4 linked regions of the Homo sapiens genome follow. The protein of the gene in region 1 interacts with the protein of each later gene in a pairwise test. Each region holds a gene or a part of one and is shown in the gene's direction. Other genes may lie near its edges.

Region 1 (8,279 bases):
AATTTTTGTATTTTTAGTAGAGACGGGGTTTCACCATGTTGGCCAGGATGATCTCAATCTCTTGACGTGATCTGCCTGCCTCGGCCTCCCAAAGTGCTGGGATTACAGGCATGAGCCACCGCACCTGGTCAACTTTTTGATTTTAGAATATAAAAGTCTTGATACAACTAATTTTGAAATAGCCTGGTGAGACTCACTCTATTCAATTAAAAAAATGTAAAATATCTTTTACAATATGAAAAAGAAAAAATATGGTGGAGGGAGAAAGAAGAAATAAATTTAAGAGTGGGAGAAAAAAAGTAGGAAGAATAGAGACAGACGTGGAAAATGAAGAAAAAGTAAATTTTGAGTGGAGTTAAAAGAAAACTGTTTAATCATAAGATACTGTGTGCATTATCACTGCCCTTTAGAAATAGTAATTTGAGGCCGGGCACGGTGGCTCATGCCTGTAATCCCAGCACTTTGGAGCCCGAGGCAGGTGGATCATGAGGTCAGGAGATCAAGACCATCCTGGTCAACACGGTGAAACCCCGTCTCTACTAAAAATACAAAAAATTAGCCGGGCGTGGTGGCGGGCGCCTGTAGTCCCAGCTACTTCGGAGGCTGAGGCAGGAGAATGGCGGGAACCTGGGAGGCGGAGCTTGCAGTGGGCCGAGATGGCGCCACTGTACTCCAGCCTGGGCGACAGAGCGAGACTCTGTCTCAAAGCTAAAATAAAATAAAATAAAAATTGGAATTTGCCACTGGGTGTGGTGGCTCACGCCTGTAATCCCAGCACTTTGGAAGGCCGAGGCGGGCGGATCACGAGGTCAGGAGTTCAAGACCAGCCTGGCCAACGTAGTGAAACCCCATCTCTACTAAAAATACAAAACTTAGCCGGACACGATGGCGCATGCCTGTAGTTCCAGCTACTCCGGAGGAGAGGCAGAAGAATTGCTTGAACCCAGGAAGCAGAGGTTGCAGTGAGCAGTGATTGCACCACTGCACTCCAGCTTGGGCAACAGAGTGAGACTTTGTCTCAAAAAAAAAAAATTGTAATTTGCCAATTCATCACTCCTCCTGGTTTTTCAGCTTTGATTTCATCCTTAATTTTTTTTTTCTGTTTATGAGACACAGTCTTGCTCTGTCTCCCAGGCTGGAGTGCAGTGGCGTGATCTCAGCTTAATGCAACCTCTGCCTCCCCGGTTCAAGTGATTATCCTGCCTCAGCATCCCGAGTAGCTGGGATTACAGACAGACACCACCACACCCAGCTAATTGTTGTATTTTTAGTAAAGACAGGGTTTCACGATGTTGCCAGGCTGGTCTCCAACTCCTGACCCCAAGTGATCCACCTGTCTCGGTCTCCCAAAGTGCTGGGATTACAGGTGTGAGCCACCATGCCCAGCCTTTACATTTTATTCTTTTTTTTTTTTTTTTTGAGAGGGAGTCTCACTCTGTTGTCCAGGCTGGAGTACAGTGGCACAATCTCGGCTCACTGCAACCTTCGCCTCCCAGTCTGAAGCGATTCTCCCTCCTGCCTTAGCCACCTGAGTAGCTGGGATTGGAGGCTCACGCCCCCATGCCCGGCTAATTTTTGTGTTTTTAGTTTTGTGTTTTTAGACAAGGTTTCACCATGTTGGCCAGGCTGGTCTTGAACTCCTGACCTCAGGTGATCTGCCCACCTTGGCCTCCCAAAGTGCTGGGATTACAGGCGTGAGTCATTGCGCCCGGGCTTAACTTTTTTTTTTTTTTTTTTTTTTTTTTTTTTTTGTGGTGGAGTCTCACTCTGTTGCCCAGGCTGGAGTGCAATGGCACAATCTCGGCTCACTGCAATATCCGTCTCCCAGGTTCAAGTGATTCTTTCGCCTCAGCTTCCTGAGTAGCTGGGATTACAGGCACCTGCCACCACTCCCGGCTAATTTTTTTGAATTTTTAGTAGACACGGGGTTTCACCATGCTGGCCAGGCTGGTCTCGAACTCCCGACCTCAGGTGATCCTCCCGCCTCGGCCTCCCAAAGTGTTGAGATTACAGGCGTGAGCCCCTGCGCCCAGCTGATTAACTTTTATTCTAACCTCTGAGAATGACAGAAGAGGAAAGACTTGTCTTTCAGAGTATGACAAAAACTGAAGAGGTTTTCATCTAGTTAAAAAAAAATGGGGAGAAAAAATTATCTCTAAAAAGTGAGTGGCATGAGCAAAAATGAGAAAGCAAAGACTGTAACTGAAGAACATAGTCTTTATAGACAAAGCTTAAAGCCCATATAGGGAACAGTGGAAAATACTATTGGAAGGCCTTGAGTAGCAGGCTAAGGACTTAGGCATTATTCAGTAGGTAGTGGTTGCTGTCAAAGGAAACACCAGTGTGGTATGGAGGAAAATTTTCTAGTCCTGATTTCAGAAGGCTGGAATTATTGTGCCAGTGTAATACTTGGCAGTCCTTACCCTAAACCTTGGTTTATTTCTAAAACAGGGGTAATCAGGCAGTTGTGAGGGTTAAATAAGATCATATGACAAGGTGTGTTTGCTTTGAAAATGTCAAAATGTTATAAAAATGTAAGTTTTCATTGTTGTGAGGACATAATTGATACTTAAAGACTACCGATATAGCAAAATTACTAAGGTGATGGCTGTAGGATTACAAGAGGGGCAATTTTTTTTCTTTTCTTTGTTTTTTTTGAGACGTAGTTTCACTGTTGCCCAGGCTAGCGTGCTATGGCAGGATCTCAGCTCACCGCAACCTCTGCCTCCCCAGTTCAAGCGATTCTCCTGCCTCAGCCTCCCAAGTAGCTGGGATTACAGGCATGTGCCACCATGCCCGGCTACTTTTGTATTTTTAGTAGAGACGGGGTTTCTCCATGTTGGTCAGGCTGGTCTCGAACTCCCGACCTCAGGTGATCCGCCCACCTCGGCCTCCCAAAGTGCTGGAATTACAGGCGTGAGCAACCGCGCCCGGCCAAAGGGGGGCAGTTATTATTATTATTATTATTATTTGAAATGGAGTCTCGCTCTGTCGCCCAGGCTGGAGGGCAGTGGTGCTGTCTCGGCTCACTGCAACCTCTCCCTCCCGGGTTCAAGCTATTCTCCTGCCTCTGCCTTCCGAGTAGCTGGGATTACAGGCGCACGCCACCATGCCAGGCTAATTTCTGTATTTCTTTTTTTCTTTTTTCTTTTTTTTTTTTTAAGTAGAGACGGGGTTTCACCATGTGGTCAGGGTGGTCTTGAACTCCTGACCTCAGGTAATCCGCCTGCCTCGGCCTCCCAAAGTGCTGGGATTACAGGCGTGAGCCGCGCCCGGCCAGCTGCTGCTGTTTTAGACAATGGTTGATGAAGGATTCGAAGGCCTAAACAATAGAGCTTTTGTTCTGTTTTGTTTTTGAGTGGTCCTGAACAGTTCTTTTGGGCAGGGGAATTTGTCTGTGTGTGAATGTGCAAACATATATATAATCTGAGTGGCTGCCTGGCCTTGTCCTAGGTTTTGTCCCGTATATACGCCGTCTTTTTTTTTTTTTCTTTCTGCATGTATGTATATTTTCTCAAGGCATCTGTCCTGCACTAGACTTTGGCTTGTCTTTCCAGGCCAGCTTCCAGAGGATGCTTTGGCAGTTTTCCCTCTGGGTAACCAAGCAGGCTGCAGCCAGCAGATGGCACTGCAGCAGAAAGGGGCAGAGTCCCTTTAGGCCCTTGACAAGCACGGCGGATTAGTAACCGTATAATTTAACCCTCCAGTTAGCCTTGGAGGACTCGGTGTCGCACTTCCGCCCGAACTCTAATAAAGCGGGCCGAGTTGTGTGCAATTAAGGATTTCAGTATGCAAATCTGAATCTGTACTTTTGTCTCCTCCACCCCACCCCCATCATTAGACTGGCAATGTCTTTTGTCACGTTGTCAAAGTGTCCTCAGAGAAGCGGTGTCTAGATATCGCCGATTTCTGGTTAAAGTGGCTGAAGTGATCCCAGCATTAATTAAATGCAGGAGAATCGAGATTCTCCTGATAGTTTAAGGAAAAGAAAAATTCACACAAGCAAACGGGCAACCCTTTGAATGTTTTCCGACGACGTGGTGCTTTAGGATCTGAAAGATGCGACTTGGTTTTTGTTGTTGTTGTTGTTGTTGTTGTTGTTTTTGAGACGGAGTTTCCGCTCTTGTTGCCCAGGCTGGAGTGCAATGGCGCGATCTCGGCTCACCGCAACCTCCGCCTCCCAGGTTCAAGCGATTCTCCTGCCTCGGCCTCCCGAGTAGCTGGGATTACATTACAGGCATGAGCCACCATGCCCGGCTAATTTTGTATTTGTAGTAGAGACGGGGTTTCTCCATGTTGGTCAGGCTGGTCTCGAACTACGATCTCAGGTGATCCGCCTGCCTCGGCCTCCTAAAGTGCTTAGATTACAGGCATGAGCCACCGCGCCCGGCTAATTTTGTATGTTTAGTAGAGACGGGGTTTCTCCTTGTTGGTCAGGCTGGTCTCGAACTCCGACCTCAGGTGATCCGCCTGGCTCGGCCTCCCAAAGTGCTGGGATTACAGGCGTGAACCACCGCGCCCGGCCGCGACTTGTTTTTGTTACAAGGTTCCTCATTTCATTTGCAACGTTCAGACGCAGTCTGACTAGATTTCCATCCGGAGTAAGGAAGAGCAGCTCAAGGGCAGTCACGGAGGCCGCAGGTGCGGCTTCTTCACCCGCGGTGCTGGAGTTCTCTCAAGTGGAAGCCCAGGACGATGAAAACCTCATAGGTAGGCTGCTGCTTACACACAGCAGCCGCCACGGCGCAAAATAAACTACAAAACTACAAGCCTTTACCTTTTCAAACACACTGACGCGGGCCAGCCCCAGCCCTACGCCCGCAGGGGCACGCAGAAAAGACTTAGTTACCACGGCCAAGTACGAAGCCTTCGAGATAGCGTTCTTCTTACCCTACGTAAACACGCAGTTTCCCGAGCTCGACAATCGGCTAGCCACTCCTGATAGCGTTCGGCGCTCGCCTCTCGGCCCTTGCTCCTGCGTACTACGGCTTCTTCCAGTCACCTCGGCCCGGATCGGGAAGTGTCAAGCGGGCGCTCCCCCATCTCCGCCGCTATTACCACTGAACCCGGACCCCCTACCCAGGTCCAGGGCCAGCCGCCATGACGAACGGTGAGAACTGATGCCCTGAGCGGAGGGTGGGAGTGAAGGACGAAGGGAAAACGTGGCGGGCGGGGCCGGGACTGACGTGGCCGTTCTCCCCGCCCCCTCCCAGCCCGGCCCCCCTTGGCCTCTCGACGCCCCTAACTTCTGTACCCCTATACTCCTCTACGGGTTCCCCCTTCCCATATTCATCTAGGACCCCCAGTGCCTCTTATGCTCACACCTCGAGTTATCTATCCCTATGCTTTGCTTTCCCTTTTCTTTTTCTTAGTTCTTTCTGGCCCTTGGAGAGGTCAGTCCCAGAGGTACTACTGCTATTTAAACCCGGGGAAGAGAGAGGCTCCTCCTCCCAGCTCCCTGCGTTCTCATGCTTTCGGACCGTAGTTTTGTTGAGAGGGCCAATAAATGACATAGAATATCAAGTCCCACACTTTTGGGGTTGCTGGTGAATGTAGACCCCACAAAAGCTTCTTCTTACGGAAAAATACCGGAAAGATTTCTGATTTTAAAGTCCTGGCGGGGTGATCCCACGTGGAGACCCTGACTAGTGTTGCAAAGGGTGGATTTAGACACTGCCTCTTCTAGATGATGAGGCAGTTTATCTGACCTAATTTTCCAGGCCTCTTCAAACACTTTATGAATTCTGAATTCCAGAGGAGGACAGGAAGGAGGGCCTTCATGATTTTTAGTGTCAACCTTACAGGAAAGGAGAAGAGAAAGCCTTTTAGGCATTACGATGATTTGAGGGGCTCCGGAAAGCATTTCTCAAAAGTACTTTGTCCATAGACCTGGCACTGAAGACTCGAATTTAACCTCCTTGTGAATTTTGGCATTGTCTGCAGAAACTTATGAGAGAAAAGGGGTAGCACGTGAAGGTATAGTTCCTCAGAAAACCTTAGTGTATGTATTAATTTGCTGGACCCTTTCTTAGTGACAGCTTAGCTGTGAGACAGTTTTACTGGAGGAAGAGAGGTAGTGTGATCTAGAACTGGCAGACACTGGTTATATATAATATTCATTTGGAGCTTCCTGGGAAGTCAGAGGTCTCAGGATACTAGGCACAGTAAGAAAAGGGAATTTACCCAGAGGAAGACAGAATCTGAACCAGGAAGTAAGACAGCAGTTTGACACGGTAGTTGCTGAATAAATTTTAGTCATTCTTCCCCCATTTTGTGGTCCAATATCTTCTTGTTTTTTGCAATTAGGTGATTCATTGTGCTTCCCTGTACAAGAAATAAGCTTGGTTTATGTATTTAAGAAACAGAGCTAAGAAGTTAAAGCTTTCTATGTTGAAGCCTTAGATACTTTTTCTTTGTTTTAGAAAAATCTGTTATTATTCTGGCAGAAATTCGGTTTGTTAAGAGTATCATCCATAAAGTGTAAGATAATGATAGGAAAATTGTAGTCATGTGGATTCTTACTCTTGCAACTTTCATTAAGCTTAATTTTTTGCCTTAACATATTCTTCACCAACAGTTGCACATCTGACAGTTTTGGCTACATATCTAGCTCTCCTTTATCATATGAGTGATTTATAACAAGAACATGTTAAATTCTCTGTGCTGAGTCTCTAAGGATTCATATGTCTCAATCTATTGCCAACACTAGTCATTCCTGGGATGCTAATTTCTGCCCAGGATTTCTACTTCTTGAAAGGTGAGGGGAAGGACCAGTGACATTTTAGTAAAGGGGATGTAAAAAAAAAAATTTTTTTTTGAGTTGGGGTCTCACTCTGTTGCTCAGGCTACAGTGCAGTGGCATGATCGTAGTTCATTGCAGCCTCGAACTCCTGGGCTCAATTGATCCCCCTTCCTCCTACAAGCAATTTTTGGGAACAGTAAAATAATCGTGTTAGTCCCAGGATCCTGGCTCCCCCTTGTCAAGTGTCAGTACTGCCTGTTGAGGTTATTATTTTGTTATTATGTCACACACTATCTTCCTTAGAGTTCTCAGGCGGGATCACAGGTCCGACGCTAGATCAGTACCTAAGGTTTTCTTTTCTTCTTTATTTAACAGTGTACTCCTTGGATGGGATTCTGGTGTTTGGTTTGCTCTTTGTTTGCACCTGTGCCTACTTCAAGAAAGTACCTCGTCTCAAAACCTGGCTGCTATCAGAGAAGAAGGGTGTTTGGGGTGTGTTTTACAAAGGTGAGGCCATGTCTGGACAGGGAGAAGAGACTGCCATCTCTGGACAGTGTGGAGCTACAAAGTAGGGAGTACAGTGAGCTGGGATTATATTTGGTTTCATTTTTAGAAAAAAATCCCTCCGATTGGGTCTGAGAGTCTGGAAAATTAATCATTCTCCAAAGTTGAGGGAAGAGGTAAAAGTTAAAATTTGCTGGGTGTGATGGCTCATGCCTATAATCTCAGCACTTTGGGGGGCCAAGGCAGGAGGATTGCTTGTGTCCAGGAGTTGTAGATCAGCCCGGGCAACACAGTGAGACCCCATTTCTACAAAATATACAAAAATTAGCCAGGTATGGTGGCACGTGCCTGTAGTCCCAGTTACTCAGGAGACTGAGGTGGGAGGATTGCTTGAGCCTAGGAGGTTGAGGCTGCAGTGAGCCATGGTGGAGCCACTGCACTCCAGCCCAGGTGACAGGGTGAGACCCTGTCTCAAAAAAAAAAAAAATTATTTAAAAACATAATTGTCTATTTTAGCATCCAGATGATTTTTGTATTCTCCATGGAGTAAAAGTATACACATCAAATCATTTTAGGCTGGGGTGGAATTCCTCCCTTCAGTGGGAAAAAAATTTTTCTACGGAAAATTTTTCTTGATTTTCTGTAAATGGTACATTGGAGTCTGTTTTAAGGTTTGAGTTAATTAACTCAGATGCTTTTTTGTACTTTTTATTTGAGGCACATTCATTTGGAATCCTATCTACCTAAATTTTTTTTTGAAAAAGGACAAAATATAAACAAACAGTATATTCACCTAGACCCTAAAGCATAAGGATAGCATTTAGAAACATCTCAGAGGCCGGATGCGGTGGCTCATGCCTGTAATCCCAACACTTTGGGAGGCCGAGGAGGGCAGATCACCCAAGGTCAGGAGTTCGAGACCAGCCTGGCCAACATGGTGAAACCCTGTCTCTACTAAAAATACAAAAATTAGCCAGGGAGCCGGGCACGGTGGCTCACGCCTGTAATTCCAGCACTTTAGGAGGCCAAGGTG
Region 2 (7,837 bases), on another chromosome or scaffold:
TACCTCCCAGCACAGAGAAATGGCCTTGAAACCTGCCTTTCTCCTCTTGGGCTCAAGAAAGTCTTCCTGGGAATTCATAATTACAGGCCTGTCCTCCAACAGGCTTGAAGTTTGAATTTATACAAACAACATAGTTCAAGAAGCACACAGCCAAAATGTGTGTGCCAGGACACTCGGGGACATTCCGGAGGCAGGGAGCTGGGTGCTCAGGGGTGGCCAGGACACGATGACACCTGCCTTTGCACGGACACAGTGTGTGGCTGGCAGGGGGCACCCCAACCCCAGTTTCCAGCAGGAAGCTGAGAACCATGAAGAGATCAAAGAGATCAACTAGAAAAAATATCTTGAAGCCAGTGAGCTCAGTGATAACAGTCTCCAACCATCTTTAAAAGAGAGCGGGTCGGCCAGGTGTGGTGGCTCACATCTGTAATCCCAGCACTTTGGGAGGCCGAAGTGGGTGGATCACGAGATCAGGAGTTCGAGACAAGCCTGGCCAACATGGTGAAACCCTGTCTCCACTAAAAATACAAAAATTAGCGCAGTAGTGGGCACCTGTAATCCCAGCTACTCAGGAGGCTGAGGCAGGAGAATCGCTTAAACCCGGGAGACAGAGGTTGCAGTGAGCCGAGATCGTACCACTGCACTCCAGCCTGGGCGACAGAGTGAGACTCCATCTCAAAAAAAAAAAAAAAACAAAAAAAAACGAGAGAGTTGATGGTGCCCTTCACTACTTCCCAAGCATCCTAGAGTCCCACGGGCTGCCCCGCCCACGGGCAGTGGCTGCGGAGTGTCTGCTCTATCAGGCATGGTGATTTCCTGCCAGCCTGTGCCTTTGACATTCCCACCAGAGGCAGAACCTTCTGCAGGTGGCCCTGGCCAGGCTCCTCTCTCCTCCCAGCTCCTCATTAGCCTCCTTTGCCAGGCTAGGAAACCGAGGTATGCGAGGTTAAGGAACTTTCCTTGGGCCGTGCAGCTGAGAGTGCGCTTTGCAGGGATTTGCATCCAGGCCGCGGGACTCACACAGGCCACACCTGCCACCCCCACTGCCTCTGGCTCGTGGGAGGTGTGGGATGTGGCGGGTGGCCGGGGCAGTGCTGGGCAGGCAGGTGTTGGTATTCACAACGTTGCTTTCTTGACCGATTATTTTCCTGGGAGACTTCCTCAGTCAAAGGGTTGATATGCTTGCGAGCTCTCGATGCACGCTATCAGATTCTCCAAAAACGTACAGCCAGCTTCGCCTGCACCTGCAGCTTCTGTGATTTGTGCTCTTAATTGACGTGGCGCTTTTTTTAGGTTGAGTCGTTTTTCATTGCCAACAATCTTCTCCTGCATTGAAATAATAGCTTGTAAAGAAGCCTCACGCTTCCTTTTTCTCTGTTGACTCTTCTAGGACGCGCTCCAGGAGATATATAATCAGAAGGGCATGTTTCCAGGGGAGCAGTTTAAGCCTGCCCGGAGGCCGTGGACCCTCCTGAACTTCCTGTCCTGGGCCACCATTCTCCTGTCTCCCCTCTTCAGTTTTGTCTTGGGCGTCTTTGCCAGCGGATCACCTCTCCTGATCCTGACTTTCTTGGGGTTTGTGGGAGCAGGTAATGGACACTGTCGCTAACAGCTCACACTCTGACGGGCCTCACAGTATCAGCCACAGGGTCCGGGACCTGGTGACTCATCACAGTGGCTGTGGGAGGCAGGGGCCTGGCTGTTATGGACCCTGGAGCCAGGATCCCCCCACGGCCTGCGGGCCTCAGAGCCTGGATTCTTGCACTGAGCTGAGGGTCGCCTCCCCAGAGAGCCGAACGGCCGCCACCTGGCGCCATCCCCACTGCAGCCCCACTGGCTGGCGCCCTTGAGGATGCCGACGAGAGGGTCCCCGAGAGGGTCCCCAGCCCCCCTGTCTGCTTTTGGGCTCTTAGGGGTCAGGCTGGGCTGGCCATTCGGGAGGTTTAAGCAGGACATCATCATTCAGCTCCTCCCCATTGACCCCCAGTGACTTCCCCACTGTGTGCCCACCCCAGGCACAATGCCAGGCCCACCACGACTCATCAGCTAGCCTGGGGCCGAACAGACACCCAGCCTGTCCCTGTGGTGAGCTCCGGCGCCCACCCACACCCCGTAATTGAGGGGTCTCTGTCCGTGGAGACACAGTCCGTGTGCATCGCCCCGTGAGCCGACTCCCCAGGCCCAGCAGCTGGGCCAGCTCCTCCCCTGCTCCTGCCGCCCCTGCCAGGGGCCTTGGTGGGAGGGGTCCTGAGAGGCAGTGACTGCCACCAGCCTCTCCCATTGGACTACGAGATGACTTGAGGCCACCCACAGAGGACAGGATGTGACCTGCTTACATCCGAGGGTCCTGCTCGTCCACCTCTGTCACCTGTTGGGTTTGCAAGGCCGAGCTGTTAGAATGCCCCGAAGCCCTTCTGCTCCCACCAGCCAAAGACCCAGAGGGGCAGGCAGGGCAAGGTCCACGTGTCCACCTGCCTCGGACCCAGCCGGTCAGAAGACGTGCCCCTCACCCCTGCCTGAGCAGACCACGGTCTGAGAGGGCTGTCTCCCCGCGGGCCACACCTACTCACTGACAGCAGAGGCCACTGGGTGCGGGGCAGAGGGACAGGGTCTGGGGCAGAGGAAGGAAGCCCCAGTAACACGTTTTACAGCAAAAAGGCAAAGTCATCCGTCTCACCTCTTCTCTCTCTCTCCTGTCTTGAAAGCTTCCTTTGGAGTTCGCAGACTGATAGGAGTAACTGAGATAGAAAAAGGCTCCAGCTACGGAAACCAAGAGTTTAAGAAAAAGGAATAATTAATGGCTGTGACTGAACACACGCGGCCCTGACGGTGGTATCCAGTTAACTCAAAACCAACACACAGAGTGCAGGAAAAGACAATTAGAAACTATTTTTCTTATTAACTGGTGACTAATATTAACAAAACTTGAGCCAAGAGTAAAGAATTCAGAAGGCCTGTCAGGTGAAGTCTTCAGCCTCCCACAGCGCAGGGTCCCAGCATCTCCACGCGCGCCCGTGGGAGGTGGGTCCGGCCGGAGAGGCCTCCCGCGGACGCCGTCTCTCCAGAACTCCGCTTCCAAGAGGGAGCCTTTGGCTGCTTTCTCTCCTTAAACTTAGATCAAATTTTTTGGTTTTTAATCAGTTATCTTGGGAACTTAACCTGGCCCCTCACCTCTTCTGCACCCCCCGCCCCCGAAACTGTCTCGTAATGAATTTCTGCTGTCCTCCTGGGAGTGGACGGCCGGGTCCCGTCCCCCGGGAGCATCGCTCGGCTCAGCACCTTGGCTCCCAGTGGGGGCCCCGTGGAGGGCGCCCGTAGTGATAAGCACACCGGCACGAACGTCAGGTCCATTCCTCGAAGTCGGAGCCCTCACTCTGCCCTGTCCTGGGGCTGGCTGAGGGCGAACGCCCCACCTCACTTTCTAGAGCCCTGTCTGTCCTAGCTCCTATCTGACCTTGTGTGTAAATACGTACATCTGTTTTTAAAGTGGATGGGCCCCTGAGAACTCAGTGAAATGCAGAGTTCTCCATGCACCTAAAGCTCCTTTGTCGCTCTCATGGCTGTCAGATCCTGGTCCCTCCACACTGGGTGCTGGGGAGGGAGGACCCTCGGGGCTACCGCGCGCCCCCCCATCCCACAGATCAGGAGCCAAGGAGGGAGAACAGGGCAGCCTGTGGGACTCTAGGATGCTTCAGAAGAAGCGACGGCACCGTCAACCCTCTGTTTTTTAAAGGTGGTTGGAGACTGTTAACACTGAGCTCATTGACTTCTAGAGATTTTATTTTTACTGGTTGATCTCTTGGTGGTTTTCAACTTCCTGCTGGAAACTAGAGGTGGGGCACCCCCCACCCCCCAGCCTCGCACTGTGTCCTTGGGGAAGGCCCGCCCCCATCCTGGCCGGTGTCACTGTGGCCCGGCCACCCCTGAGCGCCCAGCTCCCTACCTCCTGGACGTCTCTGAGAGTCCAGGCAGAGCAGAGGGCAGCGCTCGGCCGGTCATGCTGGCTCCCTTGGCCTTGCAGCGAGCCCCTGGCCCACGCCGAGCGAGGGATGCTTCTCCCTACAGCATGTCCACTCCCCCGGCATGGCCAGGTGGGGCCCCTGGGGCAATGGCAGTGGTAGAACGCTCAACTTGGTTGCGGTACCATCAGCCCACCTGCATTTGGCTTTCGACTTGCTTGTTCTAAGTCACAGCGCCCTCATCTTTTTAGCAAGGTAAAAAAACCAAAATGGGTGTTATCTCTGATATCTTGAAACCAGCGTTCTGAATAGAGGTAGGTTGAGTTTTCTAGGGGAAAACAAATGGAGAAAAGAGGCATGAAGAAAAGTAAACCGAGAACATAATTAGGCATCGGGCCTAAGTGTCCTGGGGAGATTGGAGGGGACGGCAGCGTTCTGCATGATGGAGGCGCTGCCGGGCCCCGGGTCTGTGGGGGCCGTGCTCTCAGGGCGTGTGCGGGACGCCACCTGTGCACACCTGCTCAGAGCACGGCTCCTCGCAGGGGTGAAGGGGCAGACCAACGAAACCAGATGAGACCAACGACACCATGCGAGACACGCTTGCAGACACTGTTGTTTTGGAAATGTGCTTCCCTCCATCTGAAATCTCATCCCTCCACCCGCCCACTCGGGCAGCTGTGCCGTGGGCAGGGCATGCGCTCCCCTGGCTGAGCACCCCAGAGATTCTCCTGCACCTTCCTCATGCCGCACGCTGCTCATCCGTCTCCATGTGTGTTTAGATCCATGCCATTCACTGACTCACTAACACCTGCAAAATCTTTAAGGAAAAAAGCTGAAGGGTACGACCATGCACATATGTGACCTGGAAAATGCAAATTTAGATCTTTTATGATTTAATTATTATTGTTTCCCATAGAAGTTCCCTCCCTTTGAAATTAATATATAATGTATAAATTCTGCACTGAGCCATGGCGGAGCTGGGCAGCCCCTAGGTTAGAGTGGAGACGGAGGCCCAGGCGCAGGGGTCACACCTCATCTGGTTTCCTTCCCATCTCACAGCTTAGCTTGTGCTTCTCAACACCAAGTCTTTAAGAGCAATAAAAACTACACCATGAATGTTTGAATTTTTTTTTTTTGGGGGGGGGAGGGTGGATTTTGCTTTTCATCCAGAAGGAAAAGGGGAGGAGAGCTCCTTTACATTTTTTAAATTAAATTCATAAATCCCAGAACAGTCTTTTTTTTTTCTTTTTCCTTTACACCCTACTTCTGAGCTTAATTCAGTTGATGTTATGTCCAAATTCAGGCTGAGTGCTCAGGCTGAAGCAACTCTGTAGCCCACAGTCCGTGCTGGCCACTGTCGGGGTGAGGCACATTCTAGGCCTGGCATCGCTGATGCCCTCTGCACCCAGTCCTTGAGCCAGGCCGAGGACAGGAAGGGCATTGCTGGCCTGTAGCTCCTGTTACCCACCCAGAGCCAGGCGCCACACTGGAGGCTCCCAGGCGGGAGGGCCCAGGCCCACCCACGGGCGTCTGGCCGGTCAAGCTCCCAGCCTGGGCCGTGGTCTCCTGGGGACGCCGCTGGCCTCCCAGCTTAGGCCCAGGTGCCAGGTGTCATGGGGTCTCCTGCCCATCTTCCCAAGGATGCCATTGCTGTCTTCATCGTCTTCCCCCGTGTGAGACACTGGTTGTCTGGTACTCGGCGACAGTGTACCAGACGCGCACCCTATGTGAGGTGCTTTAAGGTCCCTGTCCTCAGGAAGCGCAGTCTGGTGGAAGAGATGAGCGCTGAACAAATCACTAAATAACACAAAACAACAATGTAAGCAGCACTTTCTTGTGTAAAAAAAAAAAAAAAGCACGTCCTGTCGATGAATTTTGAGTCTCTCTGCCTTGCCTGTCCCGACTCCCTTTCGCGCACCGTGGCATGAGAATCTTTCCTCACGCTGTTCGTTGCGGTATTGCTGAGCATTGATGTTGATTTGAAGGAAAAGCCGTGGTTGGACCCAGCTGTGTGTTTCACTCACGTGCAATTGAGTAGCTGTTGCCAGGCTGTCCATGCCTGTTGTGACTACCGGTTGGGGTCAGATTTGGGGTGAAGAATGAGTAAGTTTCTGCATGCTTTGTCTCTACCTGAGACACTTCTACAACAAGCCAAGTATAATCTCTCCAGCCCTGCAGATTTTCACCTGACTTGTTCAGCCCCATGCGTAGACTCCCGCTGCAGGCCTCTGGCCTGTGGCTCACTGCATGCAGCCCCTGGCGTGCAATACTAGTGCTCCACGGCGCGATGTGCTTCTAGCCCTTGCACTGCACCTAGGCTCAGGGTTCAAACGGCCAGCCCGAAAAGCCTGCCTGCCTTCTTTCTGGAAACAGCACGTCCCCGGCCGTGTGCCTGCCCCTTTCTCTACTGAGCTAGTCCCCAAACCAAAGGCAAGCCCCCTCGGGCCTCGGGGGATGGGGCCGGCCACACCCCTGACTCCGCCCTGGCTCTGCCCCATACCCCTGCCGTGGGGCCGACCTGGGGGATGCAGACATCCGGCTCCGTATTCCTGCCTATCGGGGCCAGGATGCAAAAACAATTTTTGCGTAAAAGATGTCACACTGATCTGCTGGAGTGGGGTGGACACATGAATTCAGTTTTATCATGAACACTCGCCACTGGCTGCTTGTTAATTCAGGGATAATGGTGGCATTCTTACAAACTGCTCGGGAAATAGAATGACGGGAACACTTTTAGGGAGCCCAGGAAGTTACCAGGGACATTGGTGTCGCCGGCCCAGGCAACAGCAGCGTACGCTTTTCAAAGATCATTGAGTTGTCTTAGAATTTGAAGCTGTGTAATGACAATGTCACCTGGAGTTCGTCTCCATTTCTTAACTTTTTGTTGCACAAGTATTTGGACAGAAGTCGAACTGTGAATGAGATACTGAAATGCACTAAATTGTATTACATTAAACTGGAGTTACTTGATACAATGAAGAAATGCATCTGATCTACTTGTATTTATTGTCTCAGAATTGTACGTTGTGACAATCAAATGTTACTTGCCTAAATGCCAGGAAATTCAACTGGCCTTTTAATCAGCAAGATCGCCAGCAAGTACTGTAACTGTAAAGGAAAATCTCTCTCTCTGGAGAACCCACACAAACCATTGACCTGAGTGCGCATGACAGCCACTGGCTTCTTTTTCTATGATTGAAAATCTGCCATCGCTGACTGTTGGCCAGTTTCAAAGGGACCCATTGTATACAGGGTGCAAATGTATTATACGGATGTTTCCTTTTGTACACTTCATTTTTACAAGTTTTGCTACTCACAAGCTTTATGTAGTGGAGGATAGAGGTATTTTTGGTCTTTAGAAGCTTGTCGGGGTGAGGGCTGCTAACTTACACTTCAGAGGCCTGTGTCCCAAAGGCCTGGCTGCGTTTGCCGTGCTGTGCGAGGACCTGTGTACACAGGCAGGTGTGCGCCTGCCCGAGCGCGAGTAGCTCTTGTGTAGTGGTGAAATGCTGCAGGCATCTGTTTATTAAAATTGCTGCTGTGAAAGACAGGGATAAAATATCCACAATATAAGAGAAAGCGACTCCGTGCCTCCTTCTGTTTCTTCGTTTCCAGTCTGCATAGATGTCTCCAAGGGGAAACCAGGGCCACCAGGCACTCCTGTCCCATGGGGCCACCCACCTTCAGAGCCCACTCCCACGGGCTCTGTTTCCTTGGAGGCCATCCTGCCGATGGCACTTTTCAAGGCCCTCCCTTCCCTACGAGTTGCTTTCTGGGAGGGGAAATTGAAAAGGAGAGCGGTCACCTGGCAAAAACACAGGGGAAATCAGCCAGTCCACAAAAATACGCAAAATGACCTGATGATGTCCAAAAAAGGG
Region 3 (7,837 bases), about 11 Mb from region 1:
GATAATTATTTGTTCTTGGGGACTGTTCTGTATATTGTGTAGGAGGTCCAGCAATATTCCTGGCCTCTACCCTCTAGATGCCAGTAGTACCACTACCCTTCCCCACTTTGTTTGTTTGTATGACGACAAAAATATTTCTAGACATTGCTAAATGTCTCATGGGGGCAAAATCACCCCAATTGAGACCCAGTGGTTTTTATTAAGTTTTTGTCGACTCAGACAAAAACTTAATAACCACTGTACTTTAGTGCCTAACCACTGTACTTTACTGCCTTGTTCTAAGGCCTTTTAATGATGTCTTACCTCTTAGGAGTCCAGGAATAACTTTTTAATAAACAGATATCTCAACCAAACAGTTTTATATTTAATCACCTTAATTGTCCAGGCCAGATAATTCAATGTATTTTCATTTTTGTATGTTTTTGTTTTCTTATCAGTGTACTTTCAGTATTTACACTGATAATAGATATCATATTTTAGGTATTTACTAGGTGCCTGTACAAGCTGCCATATTACCGAAGATGGACAGTTATTCAGATAATACAATAGAGAGTAAAATTTACAAAATAATGTAGACAGAGTATTTTATACAGGGTGTTTCCTCTGTGTTTAACTGAAAATTTAGACTTAGGGCAGGAAGAGAGATGAGCTTTTCTTCTCAAATGTGGACTCCCTAACTGATACCCTGTTTATCTTTTTTCCTCATTCCTTTTATGGCATGTTTCTCCTTTTAGGATTTTTGCAATTTCTTTATCTACCTTTCTGTTCTGCCTCAAAATTATTGTATTTTCTTTCATTTTCCTCTGGCATCGTGAAGGGCAGTCCAGACTTGAAGAAAGTGTTAGATCTCACCAAATAGGCAGCAGGAAGCTCCAAGAAAGCAGATAGATAACATGTTATACAGTTAAATTGTCTCACGCTCCCAATCACTGAGGGTTGATTAATCCACTTACTGTAACTGCTTTTAGAGGAAAGTGGTTGGTTCTTGGTGCTGCTGGTCTTTGACCAGCTGAGTTCAGTGGGTATTGATACCCACTGAACTCAGCTATGAAAATGATAAAGAGCTATGAAGGCAAAAGTTGTTATTGATACAACTAGTTGTTCAGCAGTCTTAGGTGACAGCAACGAAAAGTATTGTGGTTGTGTGTCTAGTTACTACCTTCTATCTTTTGTAATATATAGATCCAAATCCTACATTTGCTGTTGGATAACCTCAAATTTGTTTCACAGTTTTTCCAGTTATTCTGATCCACTGCATTATTGGATTACTAATAGATATCTCATAATTATATCATATACAAATTTCATTAATCTTTTCTAGATGAAGTAGAAAACACAATGAGGATATCTAAATATTTTTAGGTGGACTGGCTAACTGTGGGCCCTTTGTGACTTTGATCTTGAAAGCAAACTAAAGGTCAGTATGTAAAACAGTGGTTAGGTTGTTTTGTGAGATCTAGATCAGAGCTGCCCCATGGTTTCTTGAGCATTTCCAATGAGTTAGAATTACATAGTAAGACTTCACCTAAAAGGTGGATCTACTATTGAAACAATTTCAATTATAGAGTTAGGGTAGCATAATGCTTAGGAGTAGGGGCTCCAGGGCCAGATTGCCTGCATTCAGATCCTAGTTCCTCCCTTTTTAGCTTAGAGGCTAAAAAGTTTGACTTCTCAAGTAAAAAATTGACATAATAATTCTAATCACCTCATGAAGAATAAACGAGTTAAATAATGTAAAGTGTTCAGAACAGTGGCTGGCAGAAAGTGAACACTTAATAATTTCATTTGATCATTTCTGAAGAATCTTTTCTAATTCCATCTTGCCTTTCTTTTTTTTTTTTTTGAGATGGAGTCTCACTCTGTTGCCCAGGCTAGAGTGCAGTGGTGTGATCTCAGCTTACTGCAACCTCCGGTCCCCAGGTTCAAACGATTCTCCTGCTTCAGCCTCCCGAGTAGCTGGGATTACAGGCACCTGCAACCCTACCCGGCTAATTTTTGTATTTTTAGTTGAGATGGGGTTTCAGCATCTTGGCCAGTCTGATCTTGAACTCCTGACCTCATGATCCACCTGCCTTGGCCTCGCAAAGTACTGGGATTACAGGCGTGAACCCCCATACCCAGCCTCATCTTGCCTTTCTTAAAGGTTCACAGATCAGAATTGCACATAATCGATACACTGGATGCAAATATGTAATGAATGAATGATTTTTCACATTACAAAATTAATTTGTGCATATTGTAGAAAGTTCAGTAAATACATAAAAGCAAAATGACCAAAATGTTAACAGTGTTTATTAACTATAATCTGTACTCAAATTATATCCATTTTGGTGGATGACCTTAAACATATGTATGTGTGTATAACATTAAATAATAGGTAATACCGTAAGACTGTTTCACCTAATTTTTTCCACTTAACAGTGTTTAATGAATATTTTCTCATATCATTAAACTCTATACAGCATTGTTTTAATGGCTGCATAGTATTCCATTGTATGAATATGCCAGAAAGATTATTATTTAACCATGAAGATTGTGCTAGCATTGTGTTCTCGAGGATGGTAATGCTAACTGAACCAGCATGGTAAGGTGTTGGTTGGCATACCATAATCCCTATAAATACATCCCCAGTGTTGTATATTGGCAGTCTTTACATTGCTGTTTGCAAATTCCTGAAATTGCAGAATGCTTTTGGCCAGTTTCTTATAGTTGATACAGTTGTTAGTCTTTTTCTCAGGTTACAGTAATGTTTACAGTGCCTCTTGTAAAGTCAAAGGATTTGTACCAATCTGAGTGGCAATTTTTTCCATGTTTCTTCAACTAGTCCTTTTAAGATTCTCACCTGCCTTTAGCAAAGAACATATATTTAACACCTGTGGTTGCAGTTATGTAAAAAATACCGATATCACAGCCCCACCTCCGAGATGCTGACTTAATTGGTTTGGTGGTGGAGACTGGGCATAAGTAGTTTTGTTTTTGAGATTTCCCCAAATGATTCTATTGTGAAGCCAAGGTTGAAAATCACCGATCTATGTTGATATTATTTCTTGGCACTTGAGCCAAGAAATAATAAAAATATTTCTTTTTTTTATTAAAGAATTTTAAATTAAATTAAATTTAATAAATTAATTTTATTAAATTAAAGAAATTTGCATGCTTTTTATCTACTCTTGTGGGTTCAGATCTCTTCAGAATGGCACTGGGGAAACAAAAAGATTGGTAAGTACCATTCAAATTTAGGAAAATAGAATATTGTGCACTAGTTCTTATTGGCTAAAAGCATATGACAGTATTCACTCTTACTGGCTGGCCATATATTAGTAGTACTGTTTAATATGATAATTTTGATATAATTATTATAAAGTACTGTTTAATATATAAAACTGTACATACATACAGACATACATATGTTAATATAGAACTATTTCTCAAATATATAACAAATATATGTCAATAAAACAAATAATTGCCATAACAGTGGTATTAAACAAGATAAATCTACAAACTAATACCTCAACTGGACTCTGCCTATCTCCCCTGGTTCACCTCATGCTTATTCACCTTCTTATTCTTATTGAAATTTCCAGTTCACCATTTTTACATATAGCTTAGAATCTTATTATCCTGTAATTGTACATTTGCTGATCTGCCACTTTATCATTTTATTGTTGCTTCCTTGTTTTTATTATCAGCTTAGCAGTACACTATCTACAATTTTAAGATATCACTTTGTACTTTATCAAAGTTAGACCTCAGATCCTGGGAGACCCTAGCATAAATACTTTTCTACTTAAATATTTAGTTATTAAACATCTGCCAAAGGGAGGCTATTCTTTCTATGTAAAATAAATAATTCCAAAATAGGATTATTTCTTTGCATCACATGGCAGTGTCCTAGTCTGGTTTACTATACAAAATACCATAAATTGGGTGGCTTATAAATGACAGAAATTGATTTTTCTAGTTCTGCAAGGTGAAGATCAAGCACCAGCAGATTTGGTGACTATTGAGGGCCTATTCCTGGTTCATAGATGTCACCTTCTGGCTGTTTCCTCACATGGTGGATGGAGCAAGCTAGCCCTCTGGGGTCTCTTTTATAAAGGTACTAATCACATTCATGAGGGCTCTACCCTCATGACTTAATCACCTCCCAAAGGTCCCACTTCTTAATACCATCACTTTGGGGGGTTAGGATTTCAACATGAATTTTGTGGGGGATACCAGCAAACATTCAGACTATAGCTGGGTAGCTGGCAGAAAGCTCCCCTACCCCACATGTGGATGGAAAAACAATGTCTATTTGCTTCCCATTCTTCAGGCACTTCCTTTCCCTGTTGGATCTAGTAGATTGGAGATGCATGGTTTTCTTCTTTTGAAATGACACTGCTGGTTTTTCCAGTAGATTTGCCCCCTCTTTTTAACAAAAATAATTGTAAAAGCAGTTAGAAATTGTTCAGGAAAATATTACCTGTAATTATAACATGTGAATGCTATTATTTTCATTTTTGTCTGCATATATCCCTCGATATTCAAACTTTTGCTGTCCAAACTTGGGAACCAAATAGATTTCTTCAGTAAAGGGTATCTGACATCCTAATCTTTGTCTCTACCCTTGGTCATTTTTATGTAATTGCAGTCAAAGTGTTCGTAATAATTTGCAGTCACTAGTACACACATTTAGTTTTGTTTAAATGCTAAAAACTGTAACACTTGTGGAAGGTTCTGCTGGATATTCCAACATAAAAATGAAATTCACCAATCTTGTTCCTAGGATATTCCCCTGAGTATAGCACATGCTGTGTAGTTCTGTGCCAATAACTGCAAATGAAATGGGTTAGGAGGAGAGTACTGTCCTAATAGTGGAAAGAACACTGGATTGAAAGTTAAGAGTGCTTAAGTGTATTTGAGGTATATGCTTTTGCTTCTTAGCAAATAACTAATGCGATCATCTTGAAGAAGTAGGGGTTAGGTCTTCCTCTGTACTCTGAAAGTAGGTTGTCTTTCCTCCGTTAAAATGAATCTTACTTACCTGTAAATGAAGGACCTCATTCAGAGTGTCCTCATAATATGATGCTTCTCACTAATTGATACAGCATTTTGTGGAAAATTCTTAAATGAAGATGTCTTCTTTCAGTCTGGCCGGGACCTTCAACAATATCAGAGTCAGGCTAAGCAACTCTTTCGAAAGTTGAATGAACAGTCCCCTACCAGATGTACCTTGGAAGCAGGAGCCATGACTTTTCAGTGAGTGTAATCTTGATTTCTTTATGATCATTTAAGTGAAATACAGTAACAGAATGCCTGATAAAAAATAATAATTTTTAAAAAGTAAAGATTACTTAAAAATGTTGTCTTTTGGGAGGAGCAACTTCTCTGGCTCTAATTCTACAAAATGGACATCTTGTTGGTTTTTTCAGCATGCTTACAGTAATTTAACCTGTTAACATGTGTCTATGCTGTGCCCATCATGCAATAATAGATAACTTCTTGCTTTAGGACTGTCTTGGAGCCAGATATGTGTAGGTTAGTACCCTTGCTCAAACATTTCCTAACAGTGTAACTTTGAACAGCTCACATAACTTCTCTAAGCCTCAGTTTCCTCTATAAAGTAGTGAAAATAAACATAGGAGGTTTGAGAGGATTGTGAGGGAATCTGTGTGTATTACTTAGCATCTTGTCTGACACACATGGGAAGAGTCAATAATTATTAGTTATTATTATTTTGAAAAAAGAAAATTATAAAAGATAAGAGCATCTTAATCAGTGGTTATAAATGATACAGCTGATAGAGGACTCAAAGGAACATTATTGGATTTTAAATTATCTACAAATAATTGGTATTTAATGTTTAATACATGCCAAGTTTGAAGCTGACAAAATAGGAAGGATTAAAAAGGAAAAGAGTACAAGAGCATCAGAGGAAAATAAAAACGGATTAGTTAAATAATCTTTGCCATTTTAGGGACTTAGATAGTAAGATAACTTAGGCCAGGGAGGAAGCTGCTATGTTTACTTTTAAAAAACAAAACAAAAATTCTCTACCTATAAAAGACAAGTAAAAAGTACATCAAAACAAAAATAAAACCCTAGGCAATTGGCTAAGAAAATGTTGGACATTATGTTTTATGATGTATTAATTTTTATAATATCTGAAATATTTTCTAGAACTCTAATTTTCAACACCAAAAATAGTCACTCACTTAATATCTAGTATCCTCATTTTCACCATGGTTTAGAGAACCAAGACCTAGGAAAGTTCTCATGGAATTGAGAAGAGATTTTCTTCTGCCTGATTCCTTTAGGACATTCATAATCTCATATCATCCTTTATTTCCATCCAAGAGCTATTAAGGGTTTATTCTTTGCCAGACCTTATATTGAGTCCTGCATTTAATGTCCATACCTTTTAACACTGTTCTCTTAGTAGAGAGAGAGACATATACTCAAACAAGTATACTATAATATCTTAATTGAAAAGATGTTGTAAATTAGATTTAAATGAAATGTTTTGGGAACAGAGAGAAGGAAGGAACAAATTCCCATTTGTAGGGGGTAAGTTTGAAGAAACGGGACAGAGGAGGGGAGTATATATAAAGAAGTTTCACAGAAAAAATTATGGTAGAATTGAACATATGAAAATGAACAGGATTTCTCCAGGTATTTAAAAGAGCATTAACGGTTAGAAAAAACAATATAAGCAGAAGTCCACAAATATGTAAAGAACCTAGCATGTTGGAGAACAGTCCGCCATTTGGTTTATTAAAATATATGATAGAATGTTGCTTACACTTGTTTTGAAAGGCTGTAAATATAATACCATGGAGTATGATTTTATTTTGTAGGTATTAGGGAACCCTTAGAGTTTGTAAGCAGGGTAATATGGTCATCTGTAGTCTCTGGGAATAAAACTGATGGTATAGAAGATGGTGTAGACTAAAAGCAAAGAGACCAGTTAACTCAGGTGCCCAAGCAAGGAATAAGACAGCTGTATTATTAATATTATTTTAAGGGGCCTGAGAGATCATATAATAGTCTTTATCCTTTATGGAGCCCTAGGATGCCTCAGGAGCCACATAGAAAGGGCAAGGATGGGAGTATATATAATGCTTTGGGCCCCTAAACTCCTCCTTATGTTTTAAATTTTTCCCTTTTATTTTCAGTTGACATGTAATAATTATACATATTTATGGGATACAGAGTGATATTTCAATACATGTATACAATGTGTAATCAAATCAGAGTAATTAGCATATTCATCACCTCAAACATTTATCATTTCTTTGTGTTGTGAACATTCAAAATCTTGTAGCTTTTTGAAAATACGTGGTAAGTTATAGCTAGCCATATTCACCCTACAGTTCTGCAGAACACCAGAACTCATTCTTCCTATCCAGTTGTAATTTTTTATCCATTAACTTGCCTCTGCCCATCCTCCCCTTCTCTCTACCTTTCCCTACTTCTAATACCCACAATTCTACTCTCTACTTCCATGAGCTCAAAAATTTTTTTTGGCTCCTACATATGAATGAGAACATGCCATATTTATCTTTCTGTGCATGACTGATTTTATTTAACTTAATGTCCTCCAGATTTATCCATGTTGCTGCTAATGATAGAAATTCATTCTTTTTTATGGCTGAATAGTATTCCATGGTGTGTGTGTGTGTGTGTGTGTGTGTGTGTGTGTAAAAAACACTTTTAAAATCCATTATTCTCTTGATGGACATTTCTCTTGATTATCTATCCATAGATATTATGAATGGTGCTGCCGTAAACATGGGGGTACAGATAAGTTTTTAACATAATGAGTTTTTTTCCTTTGGAGAAATACCCAGCA
Region 4 (7,837 bases), on another chromosome or scaffold:
TGTATTTCTGGGGTGAGGAGGTGGCAAGGTCAGGATTGGTGTATTGTGCATGATGTTGTGATGACTCCTTGATTCCTGACCACTCATCCTTGTAATATTGCAGCAGCCAGTTAGGTATACTGCCCCAGCACATTTCTCTACCATTTAGAGAGAGACATGAAGGACATAGGAGTGGTGTGGAAGGGACATTGCCCTGTAGTGTCAGATCTCACGTCCTGATGCTTTAAGCTGCCTGCTGGGAAATGATTAGCAGAGGTCTGTATCCCTTGGGGGTGATGAAAGAGAGAAAGAGAAGTATTTTCTGTCTCTACTTTCCATTTACTAAGACAAATCCTTTGGTTATGAAAAGCTTTTGCTTTTATCTTTTTTGAGAAAAACATGACCTTTCAGTAAGAATTTTTCTAAATAATATGCTGACCTTTCTATTCATAAATTGTAAGGTTGCTTTAAAAATGGGCCTTTTATCTGAGTGGCACAATATAGTCTCATTCTACTAGCCTTTAAAGTTAAACAATAAGGACTCCTATTTCTACCTTTAGAGTTACTATTTTTATAATTATGTGTGTTTGGCTTGCTTTTTGCAGGTAATTATCTTATAGTCATTACCAAAAAGATAAAAGTAGGTGAATTTTTCAGTCATGTAGTCTGGAAAGCAACAGATTTTGATGTCCTTTCTTATAAGAAGACAATGTTGCACTTAACTGATATTCAGGTAAGAACTGGAAATTGTTACTAATTGCAGCGCCCAAAGAAGTAGCATGGGCTGGGGAGAGGAGGGTGAGGGTGTTGTGGAATACAAAGAATGCTATAATTATTTTAACAACCTATAGAGTAAGATCACTCTACCTACTTTTCTACCTAGGCATAAAAAATATTTTTTAAATCATTTGTTGCTCTTGTTTTTTTTTTTTTAAAGATTCAGTTCTTAAATTATGCAATTTCATATGGAGAGAAGGGAAAACAGAAATGCACGGGTACTCAACACCAGATTTAACTTCATATCCTCTTTGTAAAGAAATAAAATATAAATACCTTTGAAGTTCTACTCCTCTTAACTCATTCCCTTCTTTCCCAGAGAGGTTTTCTCTATTTTTACCACATGTGAATGTAAGTGTGTGTGTGTGTTTATGAAATGTGTATATATTCTTTCAGGCAGTTTTCCTTTTGCACTATTCCTGTATGCACAGATTTCAGTAACCATAGTTTAGTTAACACCAGTACCCAAACAGCATGGCTTAAATTTCAGTTACTCCAGTTTATTAACTGAAGAATTAACCCACCAAAGATGAAGGTGCAAAAAAACAAAAAGCAACAACTCTGGAAGAGAAATTGAAATTGAACATAAATGGAGCATAGAAGAAGTAGCTGACCATGGGAATGCTGACACTATTCACCATTCAAGGGACAGTAGGTATGCAGCCAGAGGTCCTGGTGCAGGCGAACTGACCGACATTAATGATGGAGTGGCTGTGACGAAAGGGATGACAGTATCCCAGAGAAAGTGATGCCTGCAACAGACTTCCCATTAAAGGAAACCTTGGAGATATTTCCCAACATTGAAAGTGCAAAGGATAAAATGTCAGAAGTTGGTTTAGACTTAGGAAGGTGTATGACAGTTCACCAGGGATAGAAGAAATATTCTGTATCTTAATCTATATGACAAGAAGGCGGCAAGCACTGTTCAAGTCTCTTGATAAATTTTTTTACAAAGAAAATATTTTTTATTCTCGGTGTTTCTAATGTTTTAAATTATAGTGTGCTAAATATTAGTTTTACAATTTGTTCATTTATGCTTATAATTTACTATATATAACTTACAAGTTACATCTACAACGTAACTATATAAGTTAATATCTATAACTAATATCTATAACTTACAATAGAGTTTTTAATGTTTTGACAAAAAAAATTTTTAAAGGTCATGAAACAGTCATAGTTTTTACAATTGACTGTTAAGATAGCTTAAGATTATTAAGATGAAAATAACATGGTAATTTTTACATTCCCACTTTACAAAGTAAAGACTGCCTGTATTCATATTTAAACAGGATCTGTTTTTGCTCGGAGTGTGTATGAAACTTACATGAATGGCATTGCCCTGTTCTGATTCTTTGAAACTTACTTTTTAAAGTCAACATTGTTTAGAGATATATATACCTGTTGAGAGTGATTGTTTTCTTAATGTAATTTTAGTTACATGTTTGCTATTTAAAAATTTTAAGTTGTATTTTTACACCCAATTTATAAGAATGTTTCTAGAAGAAAATATATTATTCTAAAACATATAACTTAGGATAAACATTTTAAAAAATAAAATTATAGCACTGCCTACCTGAGTAAAACTACAGGATATGCTTTTTATACTTTAGAATTTCTTTTTTATTATATATATCAAGAAATATATATCAATATCTTCATTCTCTACTAGGCATATTTTAAAGAAATAAAAACAGCTGTATTTATTTAATAGACCAGTCATATTTACTTAGACAATTTCTTCTCGATTGTTATTCTTTGTTGTCAAGCTGTGTAGCTAATTTTAAAAACATGTCTGAGCACAAATAAAAAATTTTGTATATGTAGATTTGTAACATGTAGATTAACAAGTTAATCATTTAGTAATGATTAAACGTTACCAAACATTAACAATTGTTTTTTAAAACAAGGATAAAAACAAATGTCAATCTTAGTATTCATTGGGAAAGCTAGTTAAAATGGTTTCCCAAAAATAAAGATAAATATTGCTTTTACTGGACTTTTTAATCTTTGTTTTAAAGAAAAAGAATTCCATTTTACTTCTCGTCCATCCCAAACCAGGGAACGTTTCTTGAGAATGTGGATGATGTTAGTATCTTGTTATTTGCTGTTTGCATTATTGGGCCCGTCGTAAATTTATGTGTTTTATTTGTCGAAGATAGCTATGCTAACTTAGCAGGGCTGTTGTGAAGATTAAAGGGAATCTTTGGAAAATACCTGGCACACAGTAGGTCATAACCGAAGGTGATGTTTTGTTAAAACTACTCTTCTGCCTTTGAGAATAAAATTTGTAAAGGATACAAAGGGGAGGAGTCCTACCTAATCAAGTTACCTAATAGTACCCTACAGTGTTTATTGAGTATCTTCTGTGTGTCAGGAACTGTCCTACATCCCAGGGAAATGGCGAGCATCCCCCTCACTGGCTCAGTCCTTGTGCCAGTAGTCTTTAATGAGACTGGACTTAACAGGATTTAATTTGTATTCTTTTCTCATGCTGGCAGATTCCTTTTCAATTATGAGCTATACTGATTTTTCTTTGTTTATAGTTACAAGATAATAAAACCTTCCTAGCGATGCTAAACCATGTCTTGAATGTGGATGGATTTTACTTTTCAACAACATATGATTTGACCCATACTTTGCAGCGGCTATCCAACACTAGTCCTGAATTCCAAGAAATGAGTCTCTTGGAAAGGGTAAGCTTGATCTTCAATTATTTTTATTTTTAGGTTTTTAAAAGGGACATGTCTCTGTTTCATGCATAAAAATTTATATTGATTTTTCTCAGTCCTGGCTATCTTAGAATCATGTATGAGGCTTTGAAAATATACCCTGTTTTAAATATACATCACAATCCCAGTGTGTGAGTCCTTGAATCTGTGTATATATACAGCCAGAATTGAGAATCACTGGTGTAGATATTCAGAAATCTTTGTATAAACACACATGTAAGTTATTAGAGGAAAATCTTTCAGAATTTGTATTTCTGCATAAGTATTACCAGGCTACCAAGTGCTAACTCTCAGATGTCAAATCTTCAAACTAGCATTGCATTCATTTGTAATTTCTTAACTCTCAGTGTTCGGTAGTGTAGCAGTTACATTAGCAGTGTAATTAGGCTTATAAAATTCATATTCTAACAGTTGATATTTCTTCTGTAGTGATGCTTATTTATAATTTTTATAACTAAAAATGTAACAAAAGTCACTAGAACTTGGAAAATATCCTTTTAAGGTTTTTTTTATTTTGCTTTTTTTTTTTTTCTTTGAGACAGAGTCTCACTCTGTCACCTAGGCTGTAGTGCAGTGGTGCGATCTCAGCTCACTGCAACCTCTGCCTCCTGGGTTCAAGCAATTCTCATGTCTCAGCCTTGTAGGTAGCTGCAATTACAGGCGTGTGCTAACACGCTTGGCTAGTTTTTAGTAGAGATGGGGTTTCGCCATGTTGCCCAGGCTGGCCTTGAACTCCTGGCCTCAAGTGATCCACCCACCTCATCCTCCCAAAGTGCTGGGATTACAGGCGTGAGCCACTGTGCCTGCCCAGTCTGCCTTTTTTTTTTTTTTTTTTAATATACAGTGAATATATCTTTAAAATTAGGTTTCATATGATCTCAACTTAAAGTTTCTTTTGTTCAGGAACCTGGATGATTGCTACCTGAATTTTTTTTTGACACACCTTAGAAGTGTTTAATGAGAAGACAGAATTTAAAAGGTCGCTCCATCTTACTTATTAGGTTGGACAATGTGAAGTCGCCAGTAATTGACCATTTTTGACCAATAAAAATGGTTATTTCATGTGGTTCAACCTAAATTAATATTTTAGTTGACTGGCTTTTTTGGGTGAGATTTTCAACTCTAATTTGGTAAAATTGTATGTAGGCTTAGATGGAAGTTTAGGTGCAGGCTAAGCATTCAAGAAACTTGGCTTTTAACTACAAAGAGACTTGCTTTTAAAAGCAGTTGCTACATTCTCCATTTGTTTATGAAACATCTCTACAACGTCAGCCATGTACCAGGAACTATACTAGCCCCTGGGGACCCAGAATGAAGCTGTGGACCCTGTCTTGTGGGAGCCTACAGTCTGCTGGGGAAGTGGTAGTCAAAGAATGGTTGCTATAATGGTGATATGTACCAAAGTGAGGTGGGATCCTGAAGGAATGAGGGTCTTTGCCTGAGGTTGTCAGGGACAACTTTATAAAGTAAGGTATCTACAGAGGACAGTAACTTTACACAGAAAGGTAACTTTTGAGCTGAGACTTGATGAAGATTTGTTGGTCAGGTGACAGTGGGCCGGGGGGTTCCAGGCAGAGGTGGTGGCAGAGGCTAAGCTGCAGAAAAAGCCATCTCATCTGTTGGGATGAGATGGGAATGTTTTGTCAGCTAAACAGAAAGTTAGCCAAGTGTAGTGGTTCATGCCTGTAATCCCAACACTTTAGGTGGCCGAGGCAGAAGGATTGCTTGAGTCCATGAGTTCAGGACCAGCCTGGGCAACATAGGGAGACCACAGCTCTACAAAAAAATTTAAAAATTAATCAGGTGTGGCGGCACGCACCTGCAATCCCAGCTACTCGGGAGGCTGAGGTGGGAGGTTCACTTGAGATAGAAGCCACAGTGTGCTGTCATCACGCCACTGCACTCCAGCCAAGGCAACAGCAAGACGGTCTAAAAAAAAAAAGTTAATGTTAACATAGGGAATCATAAAAGTGATAAATGGAACATATATACCCTAAATATTTTAACTTAAAACCTAAAAGTTTTACATTGGTCAATGTTTTTATGTACGGCCATAGGATTTTCTTTGTTTTTGGTTCCTTGATTCTGAATTGTCTTCCCTGTGTAAATTACATCCATAGGGCTTTCCCATTTGGGCCACTTTAAAGACTTTGACACTTACAGAGAAATCTGTGTGCAGAATCCTGTACATTTTTACTATGTTCTTTTATATTTTTTTAGTTGCCACTCCCACTCCAAATTCAACAGCAGTTTTGTTTTAGCAACTTGCCTCTTATCAAGTTACATTCCAAATCATTTAACTTTATAGAAACAGCAGTGTGTTTTTCATCTTATTTCATTGGTTTATAAAATAGTTAAACTATATAATGATGAAATAATAATAAGTATGACTGGTACAAATTCAGGAACACACACTTGAATCTCAGGAAGTGCGATTCAGCTGGTTGTGGTCAAGTGCAAAAGCCATTCCCTGTGACTTTTAGAGTCGGCGGTGCTGGTGGTTCAGTTGGTATGCTTCATAAATAGAATTGATTAATCTACTGAGTAGAGTCAGTTATTTTGTTTGTTTTTTCTTTTTTGAGACAGAGTCTTGCTCTGTCACCTATCCTGGAGTGCAGTGGCACGATCTTGGCTCATTGCAGCCTCCACCTCCCAGGTTCCAGTGATTCTTGTGCCTTAGCCTCCCCAAGTAACTGGGACTACAGACACGTGCTACCACGTCTGACTAATTTTTGCATCTTTAGTAGAGACATGTCGGCCAGGCTGGTCTCGAACTCCTAAGTCTCAAGTGATCCGCCTGCCTTGGCCTCTCAAAGTGCTGGGATTATAGGCATGAGCCACCACGTCTGGCCCTAAGTAGAGTTGATTAAATATAGATTGTTGAGGGAGCCTCTTCTGTATTTATGAAAGTTGGAGTGGCCAGAGATGAGATCAGAGAGTTAATTAGGGGCTGCCAGATCCTAGGACTGATTAGGCCATGCAGAGATTTGGTTCTTTAGATGACAGAGTCATTGAAGAATTTTGAGCAGATAGGAGACAGGACATGTTAGAGAACTCCTGCTGGTAGCATTGTGGAAAAATGAGTGGCGAGGGCTAATGCCTAAACTGGAGGCAAGGGAAGGTGTGTTAGTTAGGCTGGAGTCAGATGTTGGTAAAGATAGTGGGAGTAGAAATGTAAAAAATATGGATTTTGAAGGAGATTTAGTACTTGACAATTAAATGTAAGGGAAAGAAATACCGTAAAACTCCTCCCAGGTTTCTGTCTGGCCTGAGACAATGAGACAGAAATGCCCACAGGAGGTACAGATTTGCGGGGGAGATGTATTTTGTTTGAGGCCTGTCAAAGAAACTGGCTTCTAGCCATCAGAAAGAGACATTGATTGGTGTAGTTTTCTTTCTGTAGAAAGTAAGCTTGGCAGGAGATATTTTATTAAATTTTAAAACTTCTCTCAGGCAGATCAGCGGTTTGTATGGAATGGTCATCTTCTAAGAGAACTTTCTGCACAGCCAGAGGTAATGTACACGAAATAAAATCTGCTTAATTGTTACAGTCCAAGCTTTAATTCAATGCATGCTATAAAGTGACTTCCTAATCACCAAGAATTTCGAGAAACAATTCTAATTTAACTGTTTATAACTTACAAACTTGGATCAGGTCTACCCTGTCACATCATTCTAGGTTGAAGAAGCCTAACTATTTTACTCTGATCTTCTATAGAAGCCTTAAATAAAAATACATTGCTTTGTCTAACTAAGAGAGATACAGGGGATCTTGGTACATGGATAATGGAGAAATGAGGGGCCAGGGCCAAGTTTCCTGGCCAAGGGGAGAGCTCTTTTTTGTCTTCCTTTGGGGATGAGACTCCCTTCAGTCACCCAGGAGAGACATGCACAGGCACCGCCCTCTTCTGTCCTTTGTCTACACATATGAGGTATAAACAGGGAGGCCCAGCTAGGGAAACATGATATATTATTGAATCTAGGTAAATAGATGTGTCTAATTGCTTTATTTCTTGTCATTTGCTATGCTTTTTTTGGAAAAGTAGTTTGAGCTGCAAACAATTAGCATGGGATATCTTTTCCCTGGAGGAGTGAAGTTGTTGTAGGCAAAGACTGAAAAGGAGGTAAACATTCTGTAACTTCATGTAGCTTTATTAGTGTTCCAAAATCTGTGAATATTCAAGCTCAAATGATTGTAATGCATACTTAATGTTACATTAGAGAAATCTTTTAAAAATTATATTACCCATAAGTTTACTACCTTGTTATGTTTGTATATTACCTCCCTATGTGTAAATATTTTTATATAATGCTTATTTATTTTTAAAGTATATTTATTCTAAATATAT

The links.
Region 2: the proteins of TMEM167B (region 1) and AGPAT3 interact in binary tests that used the Homo sapiens proteins (3 or more experiments, as listed by UniProt).
Region 3: the proteins of TMEM167B (region 1) and SEC22B interact in binary tests that used the Homo sapiens proteins (3 or more experiments, as listed by UniProt).
Region 4: the proteins of TMEM167B (region 1) and SACM1L interact in binary tests that used the Homo sapiens proteins (3 or more experiments, as listed by UniProt).

What each region holds. Positions count from the first base shown.
Region 1 is NC_000001.11:109,085,773-109,094,051, forward strand, and holds the start of TMEM167B (protein kish-B isoform 1 precursor), read left to right. Parts: upstream 1-4,991; 5' UTR 4,992-5,100; coding exon 5,101-5,110; intron 5,111-5,887; exon of another isoform or gene 5,888-5,976; intron 5,977-7,117; coding exon 7,118-7,249; coding exon of another isoform or gene 7,250-7,310; intron 7,311-8,279. UniProt on the Homo sapiens protein: Involved in the early part of the secretory pathway.
Region 2 is NC_000021.9:43,979,599-43,987,435, forward strand, and holds part of AGPAT3 (1-acyl-sn-glycerol-3-phosphate acyltransferase gamma), read left to right. Parts: intron 1-1,390; coding exon 1,391-1,589; intron 1,590-2,705; coding exon 2,706-2,794; 3' UTR 2,795-7,837. UniProt on the Homo sapiens protein: Converts 1-acyl-sn-glycerol-3-phosphate (lysophosphatidic acid or LPA) into 1,2-diacyl-sn-glycerol-3-phosphate (phosphatidic acid or PA) by incorporating an acyl moiety at the sn-2 position of the glycerol backbone.
Region 3 is NC_000001.11:120,166,247-120,174,083, reverse strand, and holds part of SEC22B (vesicle-trafficking protein SEC22b), read left to right. Parts: intron 1-5,134; coding exon 5,135-5,244; intron 5,245-7,837. UniProt on the Homo sapiens protein: SNARE involved in targeting and fusion of ER-derived transport vesicles with the Golgi complex as well as Golgi-derived retrograde transport vesicles with the ER.
Region 4 is NC_000003.12:45,706,196-45,714,032, forward strand, and holds part of SACM1L (phosphatidylinositol-3-phosphatase SAC1), read left to right. Parts: intron 1-584; coding exon 585-712; intron 713-3,302; coding exon 3,303-3,452; intron 3,453-6,941; coding exon 6,942-7,001; intron 7,002-7,837.